Regions from separate parts of the Homo sapiens genome. Here region 2 is linked to region 1. Evidence: fine-mapped expression QTL. A gene starts in region 1. The other region holds a variant in brackets. All regions are shown on one strand. Distances are between the middles of the regions. Region 1 holds the start of IPO5 (importin 5). Region 2 overlaps IPO5 (importin 5).

Region 1 (5,000 bases):
TGTAGTTGCAGCTTCCCCCTTAACTAGCTGTGATCCTGAACTGGGCTGTCAATGCTTCCTGAGGCCTCCATTTCCTCATCTGTAAATTGGGGCGAGTTGGGCAGCACCCTAGGGGATCCTCCCAGCTCCGGCGTCTGAGGACCATCAAGTCGGTTATGTCACTGGGTTGTGGTAGAGTGGTGGATACACAGGCCACTTAGGCTTGCTTGCCCTGAGGTGAAATTGTTCTGGAACTCTGGGATTTCAACTCTTATATTTCTGCCTGTGTTTTGGAAGTGTTTTCCCCGCTCATTTTCTCCATCAGACAGTGTCATTTATTGTAGCTGCCAACATAAAATGACAACTGTCTCCACTTGTCAGCTGCTCTCATCATCTGGTTTGCTGTGTGCTTTGGAAGGCAGATGACCAAGCATGTATGAACTAGGCACAAGAGTATATGAACTCAGCACAGAGAAGACAGCTGAGGATATTTCCTGTAGAGTAGCATGCATGAACTTTATAAGGTATTTGGCCACTTAGGTATTTTTCTTTTTTTTTTTTCGTGATAGGGTCCCACTCTGTCACCCAGGCTGGAGTGCAGTGGCACAGTCATGGCTCACTGCAGTCTTGACCTCCCCAGCTCAAGGAATCCTCTCACCTCAGCCTCCTGAGTCCCTGGAATTACAGATGCATTCTGCCATAACTGGCTACTTTTTTCTATATTTTGTAGAGACAGGGTCTCACTATGTTGCCTAGGCTGACCTTAAACTCCTAGGCCCAAGTGATCCTCCCACCTCAGCCTCCCAAAGTGCTGGGATTATAGGTGTGAGCCACTGTGCCCGGCCGGTATTTTTCATTTGGAGGTTTATAATTGCATTCCAGAGTTTTAACTCTACTGGAAAGCTAACACAATGTTCCAACACAAATCTGTCTCGCATACTAGTTAGTGTCTTTGAGGTTCCATCACAGACAAATGACGGAAGAAAGCAAAACTGTTTAGGAAGGTCTAAATTAAACATTCTATAATAAAGGCATTAGCATTTGACAAGTCCCTGGTATCTAATACTTTATAAGATGACAATGAGCCTTTTTTACCCCTAGTTAGGGGATTAAGTTCTAGGAGAAGAAGTTAACCAGGTGGTTCCTTAAGTAAGTAATCTTTTGACTACTTAGGGATTGATTTTGTTTTCCCATAATGAAAATGAATTCTGTTTTCCTTCATTTACTTGACTTTAGTGATCTCTGAAAACTAAGATAAAATATACTCGGCCTCTGAGGGAATACAACCATAATGTACAGAAGACAAAATAGATACTCTAAAGATTTTAAATGGAACATCTTGGGATTTGAGAAATTAAAGGCAGTGAAAATCATACTGCTTCTAAGCACTTTTTATTCTCCCTATAGGAAAGCAGGGTAGATAATCCTGATGGGTTGGATTTCAATTAATTGGTGAATAGAAGGTAAAATGATCAAGAAACAGATATCATAATTATAGGAGAAAATAGCAGGAGCTTTTTGTTTTAAAGGAAATAAAGAATAGAATTCACAGTGAAGAGAGACAGAACAAAATCTGATAATTCTAGACTCACTTGAGTGCCGCAAGTATCCTGATCAGGGAAAACAGTTGTGCCTACACATGGGTCCTGGAAAGGCTTCTCCCCGGAACCACCTAAGTGAAATAAAAACTGATTTCTGACTGTTTCAGGATGGCAACACAGACCTTTAGGATAATAACCCACATTCTTTTGGGCAACTCTAATCAAGTGATGCCTCCTTAAGGATACAGAGTTAGTCCCCAGCTCACGTAAGGCACAATACCAAAGAACAATGAGCCATCATGAAATCGTCATTGTTTCATACTTGGTTTTTGTGTAGAATGTTCTCCAAATCATTGTCTCTGACGTTTCCTTCCTCTTGGGTATGACTGTGGTGACGTCAGGAGACGAGCTAAAGGGACCTCCTGGATCTCACAGGGAAACTCTTTCCCTCCAGTATCACGCTAAATTGTTCCTCAGTGCAGATGAAATTCTTAAATGGTTTCATCTGAATGTGAGGTTTTGGGATGACTTACTGTGGTCAGAGCTGTTCCCGGCTGCTCCAGTTGTGGGAGGTCATCAATCCCACAGTTCTGACCTCCTGGCTCAGAGACGTCACCGTGGAGACACCTGGCTGCTATTGTGACACGCAGGAGGTCAGCTGGCTCCTGCTAGTGGGCATTTACACTGCCCACCCTGCCAGCTTCACAGGCCCACACTGCACAGGCATTTAGACGTTACAGGGTAGCCCAAGCTCCCAAAGCTGTGGAAAGGAAAGGGAGCTATCTATTGGCCTTTGAGAACTCAAAACCCATGTTGCTGGGGGCCACTCAGATTGGGTACAAATGTGTCATCAAATTCAGTTTTGAAACTGTCTGAGTAGCTTCTTTACCCACAGATTTTGATTCTATTCACTACTCAATACTGAAAAGAGAAATTGATCTCTCAAATAGACAAAGATAAATTTGTATGGAAACAACAGGAAATTCCATATTACATACGTTTATGTCAACTGGGTTTGTGATTAAATTACTTTTTCTTTTATTTTAGTTGACATGTAATAATTATAAATATTGGCTGGGCGGGGTGGCTCATGCCTGTAATTCCAGCACTTTGGGAGGCCGAGGTGGGAGGATCATTTGAGCTCAGGAGTTCAAGACCAGTCTTGGCAACATGGCAAAACCCCATCTCTATGAAAAATGCAAATATTAGATGCGTGTGGCAGTGCACACCTGTAGTCCCAGCTGCTCAGGAAGCTGAAGTGGGAGGATCATCTGAGCCGGGGGAGGTTGAAGCTGCAGTGAGCTGTGATTGCACCACTGCACTCCAGCCTGGGCAACAGAGTGAGACCTTGTCTCAAAAAATAAACAATAAAAAATTGCAGATATTTATGGGATGTAATTAAATTTTTATATGACAGATTAACATCAATTTTGCCCTGTATTCTCATGGATCTCAATGCCCTAGCTTTGTACATTTAGCTTTTCTTTTTTTTTTGAGACAGATTCTCACTCTGTTGCCCAGGCTGGAGTGCAGTGGCGTGATCTCGGCTCACTGCAACCTCCACCTCCCGGGTTCAAGAAATTCTCCTGCCTCAGCCTCCCAAGTAGCTGGGATTACAGGTGCCCACCACCATGCCCGAATAATTTTTGTATTTTAGTACAGATGGGGTTTCACCACGTTGGCCAGGCTGGTCTTGAACTCCTGACCTCAAGTGATCCATCTGCCTCGGCCTCTCAAAGTGCTGGGATTACAGGCATGATCCCCTGCGCTGGCCTAGCATTTTGTTGTTTTTATTAATTCAGATCATTAATTAAAGCCAAACTCCATTTTTGTAATTATTTATTTCTTTTTTTTTTGATACAGAGTCTCTCTCTGTTGCCCAGGCTGGTGTGATCTCAGCTCACTGCAACCTCTGCCTCTCTGGTTCAAGCGATTCTTCTGCCTCAGCCTCCCAAGTAGCTGGGATTACAGGCACGCGCCACCATGCTCGGCTAATTTTTATATTTTTAGTAGAGACGGGGTTTCACCATGTTAGCCAGGATGGTCTCGATCTCCTGACTTCGTAATCTGCCCACCTTGGCCTCCCAAAGTGCTGGGATTACAGGCATGAGCCAACGCACCCGGCCTATTTTTGATTTTTAAATTGTTTCATAGGACATGGGCAGACTCCTTTGTATAGGTCACATTTTTTTCTTGGTAACGTGTGATGTCTAAGCACTTTCTAGTGTCACCCCGCATATCCTGAAAGTTCTTCAGCACTATTCCTTGCTTCTTCGTCCTCATCCTATGTCACTGGTTCTTTTTTTGTTTTTGAGACAGGGGTCTCATTATGTTACCCAGGCTGGTCTCGAACTATGGGCTCAAGAGATCCTCCTGCCTCAGCCTCCCAAGTGGTTGGGACTGCAGGAGCTCGCTACTGCACCTGACTTCTAACATTTTGGCTTGTGGGCAGGTGTCTTCATGGCATTTTGCTCAAGCATCTTACCAAGGGTCTGATACCAGAATTTACATAGATTCAGAATCAGCGATTGAATGGTTACAAGGTTACTGCAAAATGTATGAAGAACATTTTATTTAGTTACGTATTTGTTTATTTTTTAGTTCTTTTTTTAGAGACAGTCTTGCACTGTTACCCACCCTGGAGTCCAGTGATGCAATCATGGCTCACTGCATGCCCCACCATACTTGGTTAATGTTCTAAAAAAATGTTTGTAGACGTTGGGGGAGGGTCTCACTGTGTTGCCTAGGCTGATCTTGAACTCCTGGCCTCAAGTGAGCTGGGAGCACCTTGGCCTCCCAAAGTGCTGGGATTACAGGGGTGAGCCATTGTGCCCTTCCTGAAGAACATTTTAAAAGAACAAATCCGAGAAGTTTCTCCAGTGCCTATGACATTGACCAGTTGCTTGGTGTATTAGTCTGTTTTCATGCTGCTGATAAAGACCGTGGCTGGGCACAGTGGCTCATGCCTCTAATCCTAGCACTTTGGGAGGCTGAGGTCAGGAGTTCGAGACCACCCTGGCCAACATGGCAAAACCCTGTCTCTACTAAAAATAGAAAAATTAGCTGGGCATGGTCGTGGGTGCCTGTAGTCCCAGCTACTTGGGAGGCTGAGGCAGGAGAATCACTGAACCCAGGAGGTGGAGGTTGCAGTGAGCCGAGATTGTGCCACTGTACTCCAGCCTGGGTGACAGAGCAAGACTTGGTCTCAAAAAAAAAAAAGAAAAAAAAAAAGACATACCTGAGACTGGGTAATTTATAAAGAAAAAGAGGTTTAATGGACTCACAGTTCCATGTGGCTGGGGAGGCCTCATAGTCATGGTGGAAAGCAAAAGATACATCTTACATGGTGGCAGGCAAGAGAGAATGAGAACCAAGTGAAAGGAGAAACCTCTTATAAAATCGTCAGATCTCGTGAGGCTTATTCACTACCACAAGAACAGTATGAGGGAAACTGCCCCCATGGTTCAAATATCTCCTACC
Region 2 (5,524 bases), 23 kb before region 1:
TTTTAGAGTTTTGACGTCTCTTCAATGATTTCAACCAAATATATAACCATATTTGAATACAAAAGTCACCTTAGTCAACAGTTTGGTATTTATGTGTCGACTAAGTATTTTTATTTTGAATGAGTAAATTACAAAGATATTTACTGAGCCCTGGCCAATTTTTCAGTTCATAGAAAATATTTCTATATTTGCTGTATCAGACTTAATGCTAATTTTATTTCATTTGATCTCTTATAAAACGCTTATTTCATTAGGCAAAAAAGAAAGGGGCATTCTATGGCACCAGAGAGCTTCTCTTAACATTTACTTTTTTGGAGGTCAAATTAGAAAATTCTGTATCACAGTACTTAGTTTACATATTAATACATTCTCAGGATATACAAAGAAAGTAAAAACCTAGTATCTGAATGTTTTCACTAGGAATAAAGAGACTAAGAGAATAACAGTACTTATTTCCAATTGTTCTTTATGAGAAAATGTGCTGAATGCTGATAACTATCCCCAAAGTGATGTAAGTGATAAAAGATTTACAACAGGCACCAATTGGAATTCAAGCTAAACCAGACACTGGTATTTAGTTCAATAGAAGAGAGATTCCCCACTAGGCTTGACAATAGAGACTTAAGCAACTGGAGGGAACAGAGAGAATTAAACTAGCTTACTAATTACAATGCTGTTCTGCTTTGTAACACATGAAAATTTCTATTATTTTCATGCTGGGATTAAAAAGTTATTTTGGCGAAAAATTATCTCAAGAGTTACCAGAAAGCATTAATTTTTTTTTTTAAAGCATCATCATATCCCCAAGGCAAACTGGTGCAATACATGCATATCACTTCTAGGAACAAATGCTACTTTTCAGTATTCTACAAGCAAACCTGGCAAAGTATGCAAAGATAGGTATACATGTACTCCTGCGCATAGTACTATTTTTAAAAGAGCAGGTCACTGGAAACCGCAATATCCATTTCATAGAGGGTTGCTTATATAAATATCTATCCATATGATGTATAATCTATAGCTGACCAAAACCTCACTTATGAGGCAATGTGAAATATAGAGTGAAAAATTCAAGTTGCAAAATAGTGTAAATAGTATTATAAGCCCATTAAGTAAAAAATGAATGTGTATGTTAAATTTTCAGCGAAGATTCACGACACAAGCGGTCACCTTTGGGAAACGGGATAAGAAACGATTCACTGTTTGAATTTTTACCCTGAACATGTATTACATGTATAATAAATAAAAACTTAATGAAGTGAATAGTAGAAAATGCTTTTTCACATAGAACCGAATTTTGGGTGTGTTTACTTCACTTAATATAAAACCCCTAAGTGTAACCAGCATATCCACCATCTATTCAAAACAACGATTACCACCGTCGTTTCAAAGACACCTGGAAAAGTCTTCAGGCCTGAGTTCAGAAGAGGACTTGCAGTCAATTTCATTGGCTATATGTAAAATTAATTTTTGTTATTTAAAAATATCTGGCTGAACATCCTTCACTTAATCTTATGAAACTCTACAATCGCATGGTTGCAAAAACCCCATATATAACCAAGTTTGGCGGTCAGCTAAGAAACTGGAAAGTTTCTCCCTCCCCTGGAAGTATCCCACAAGAATCGTGGTCTCAACGCTGAAAATGTAACATCAGTCTTCTAGTGAACTTGGTAAATGAGCTTACAGATATATTTAAAATACTGTCACTTGAAAGTCTCTCCACATTTTGGAGGCCAGGAACAAGAGGTGGTTTGAAAAAAAGAGATTACGGTTAGATTTAATGAAGTTGAAGACTTAAACATATGGTACTGGCCCAGTTAAACAACGGAAGTCCCACTACATCCCATTTATCCCACGATTCTCTAGAGAGCAAAGAAAATTTGTCTGAAGAGCAGAGTAAGTGTATTATAAGCCCAGAGTAAGGTGGAAACTGCATAGAAAGAAACCCTAAAGGCAACTTCACAAAACTGGAGGTGGGAGGGGGTAGGGAAATCTGGCTTCTGATGTTAGGAACTAGAATGAGAAAGAACTAAATGGAAAAAGGCAGTAGGGACAAGGCAGGGCACATATTTAAAAAGAGAGGGACAGACGGTGTGGGAGATGAGCAGGGGTAGAAGCAGGCGTGACGGGTCAGGTAGCAGCCAGGGTTTGGGAGACCCACAGCGCTAGGCTGGGTGGAGACAGCGGCTGGAAGGGCAGTGGGGGCTCCCACTGGGAGAAAGCGGGAAAGGGGCAAGCGGGGAGCTGGGAAGCGGGGTGGCCAGCGAAGTTGGGGCCCCGGGCCCGCCCGGCACCCCACACCTGGACGGGGGCGCGTCGGGAGCGGCCGCACGTGGGTGCGAGCGGCGGCGGGGAGGTAACTGGTGCCAGGCGCCGCGGCAGCAATGGCCGGAAAAGCCCGGGGGCACGACCGGGAGCCGCGGGCCGCCTCACACGTGGGCTGCGCGGCCGCCGCCCGCCGGGCCCAGCCTGCGCGGCCGCCGCGGACCGGCCGAGGCCCGGTGCGGCTGGCGTCGGTAAAGGGTCGGCGCGCCGGCCAGGGCGCGAAGACTGGGGCGGCGAACTCGGTTACCTCTGCCTGTTTCCGGACCACATTGTCGGGGCTGAGCAGGTTTCCCAGGAGCAGGTAGAACTGTTGCTGCTCCGCCGCGGCCGCCGCCATTGCGCTAGGCGTGAGAGAGAAGGAGGGAGGGGAGACAGGAGCCGTGAGGCGCGCTCGCGGGCCGCGGGAGGGGCGGGGGCGGGCCCAGCGCGGGGACCGGCACCAGCGGCGGCGCGGGGCTTGCGGGGGGCCGCGCGGGAAGGGCGGGGCAAAGGGGAAAGGGGAGGACGGGGCGGGGCCTCGCGGCCTCTCACCCCGCCGCGGCCGCCGGCGCCGGCGCCTCACTGGCCTTGGGCGCAGGGGGGCGGGGCCGAGGACGCCTCCTCGGGGGCCGCGCTGATTGGCCACGCACCCTGCGGTGC[C/G]GTCAGTGGCCGCGCATCGGGGGCCGCCGGCTGTACGCCGGTTGGGTAGGCTGGCGGCTTCGCAGCCGGGCCAGGGCTGGGATCGGGGTCGGGGTCGGGGTTGAGGTCGAGGTCGAGGCCTGGGCTGGGGCCAGGGCTGCGTCGCGGGGACAGCGGGAGGAGCCGGCCGGCGGGCCCGGCCGCGGCAAGGGGCCTGAGGCCTGGCCGGGGAGGAGGGGCCAGCTGCTGAGCGCGGGAGATTTCGGCGCCGCGGGCTGGTCGGCCTCCTTCTAGCGACCCCCGGCCCCTCCCCGTGGCCGCTGGAGCAGGCCCCACCCCTTTGGTCCCTCGCTCCCTGGGATCCAGCCCTTCACCCACCCCCAGGAAGGCAGTCCCTTTAGACCCACTTCCTACGTACCTTCTACTCACGGACTTCTCGCTTTCAGACCCTCCGACCTCCCCCAGGGCTGTGGACTCAGGGCGCCCCTTCCTCCCGTCGCGCTCTCCAGTGACTCACGCCTGGGGCTTGCCCGGAAGAGGGGTTACTCAGCCCGGGGCTGTCCCGCCAGGCCGCCCGTCCCCAGCCCGCGGTCGTCTTCGGATGTACACGTAGCAAACATGCCCCCACCCCAGGATCTGTGACTGTTCCCTTGAATCCCTTGTTTAGGGATTCTGTTCTCGCAATGATTGGGGAACGTCAAGAGAGACACCTTTCTTCCTAAAGGAGCCCTGGTTTACAGGGCTGATTATCTCAATCTCAGTCTAGGAACCTAGAGGCGTAATTTCAATTTCAGCATTCTAATGCGCAGATAATACACGCGATGTTCTTTAACTCCTGGGGCTGCCAAAGGCAGAGAGCAGTGTACAAATCAGAGGGTACTTTTGTTGAGACCCTGTTGTATCCAATACATTGGGCTAAGGGTGTCAGTGGAAGCCTTGCTCTGTCGCCTAGGCTGGAGTGCAGTGGCGCGATCTCGGTTTAGTGCAACCTCTGCCTCCCGGGTTCAAACAATTCTCATGCCTCAGCCTCCCAAATACCTGGGATTACAGGCATGTTCCACCATGCCCAGCTAACTTTTTTGTATTTTTAGTAGAAACGGGGTTTCACCAAGTTGGCCCAGTTGGTCTCGAACTCCTGACCTCAGGCGATACCAGCCCCCCCCGCCCTCCCCCCGCCTCGGCCTCCCAAAGTGCTAGGATTACAGGCATGAGCCACTGCGCCCAGCTACAAAAACAATTCATTTCTGCCCCAAAGGGACACTACATCTCTAGTGAGGAGGTTTCATACTGGGTGAGATGGAAGAGTAGTTCTACACCGCTGGCAGTACATAGTATTTAACTTAGGGAATTTAATTTCCTGTTGGCTATTCTGCTGCAGTTCTGCTCTTTGAAAGTCAAAACATTTGCTCTTTGGTGAATGATTTTAAATCTTGGCCACTGTGTTTAGAATCTGGGCTGAGCCCTGGGATCCACGTGCAATTGGGATGGCCAGCCAAGATTTTTTTCTAAAGGATTCTAATTGGTTCCTAGAGAAAATTCTCTTAGAAAGTTTTGGGCCATGACAATGATGGGTTCTCTACAGGAGGTCTGCAGACCTATCTTTGTTGAATTTATATTTCTTAGATGTGACAAGTTTTCATTCTTATGCCACGTTATTTCTTCTAGACAAACCACTATGCACATTACTTTGGGGCAGCTTTTTTTTGTTTGATTTTGATTTTTTTTTTTTTTTGTGGGTCGTTGGGGTATCTGGATTCTGAGGAGGTTTCATCATCAGCCAAGGTTATTAAGGTTTTAAGAATTACAGGCCGGGCAAGGTGGCTCACGCCTGTAATCCCAGCACTTTGGGGGGCCGAGGTGGGCGGATCACCTGAGGTCAGGAGTTCGAGACGAGCCTGGCCAACATGGTGAAAGCCCGTCTTTACTAAAAATACAAAAATTAGCCAGGTGTGGTGGTGGTGGGCGCCTGTAATCCCAGCTACTCGGGAGGCTGAGGCAGGAGAATCACTTGAACCTGGGAGGTGGAGGTTACAGTGAGCCGAGATCGTGCCATTGCACTCCAGCCTGGGTGATAGAGCAAGACTCCGTCTCAAAAAAAAAAAAAAAGAATTTCAGACAAAAACAACTCATTCAAATGACTAGGTTAACAGTGAAATATGATAAATTGCTTAGAGGCTGCTTAGGGCATGGCCCGATCTCCAGTTACTTTTTAACACCTGTTGCGATATGTGTTTCTATTGGCAATGAGTCTGTAGGTTACATATATTTGCTTAATAGTTACTAAATAATAGAAATTCCAATCAAGTTTGCAGATATTTGTTACTATTATTATTATTGTTATTATTATTATTTTGAGACAGAGTCTCACTCTGTTGCCCAGGGTGGAGAGCAGTGGTGTGATCTCACTGCAGCCGCCACTTCTTGGGCTCCAGCGATCCTCCCACCTCAGCCCTTCCAACTAGCTGGTCTGCAGGCACAAGCCACCACACCTGGCTAATGTTTCCAGTTTTGGTAGAGATGGGGTCTTCCTGTTACCCAGGCTGGTCTCAAACTCCTGAGTTCGGGCGATCCTCCCACTTTG

What was found.
Region 2: its variant is fine-mapped to the expression of IPO5 in whole blood (INTERVAL, PIP above 0.99).

Annotation. Positions count from the first base shown.
Region 1 is chr13:97,950,770-97,955,769 of GRCh38, reverse strand. It overlaps IPO5 (importin 5), which reads right to left and starts at 2,095. Exons shown (of 29, transcript NM_002271.6): 1 at 2,054-2,095; 2 at 1,572-1,651.
Region 2 is chr13:97,973,835-97,979,358 of GRCh38, reverse strand. It overlaps IPO5 (importin 5), which reads right to left. Exons shown (of 29, transcript NM_002271.6): 4 at 2,573-2,666. The coding sequence starts at 2,662. Among named protein-coding and RNA genes, the nearest start is that of IPO5, 23 kb to the right of the region's middle. RefSeq lists silencers at 2,162-2,511, 2,692-3,421. The variant C/G (reference allele first, on the strand shown) is at 2,965.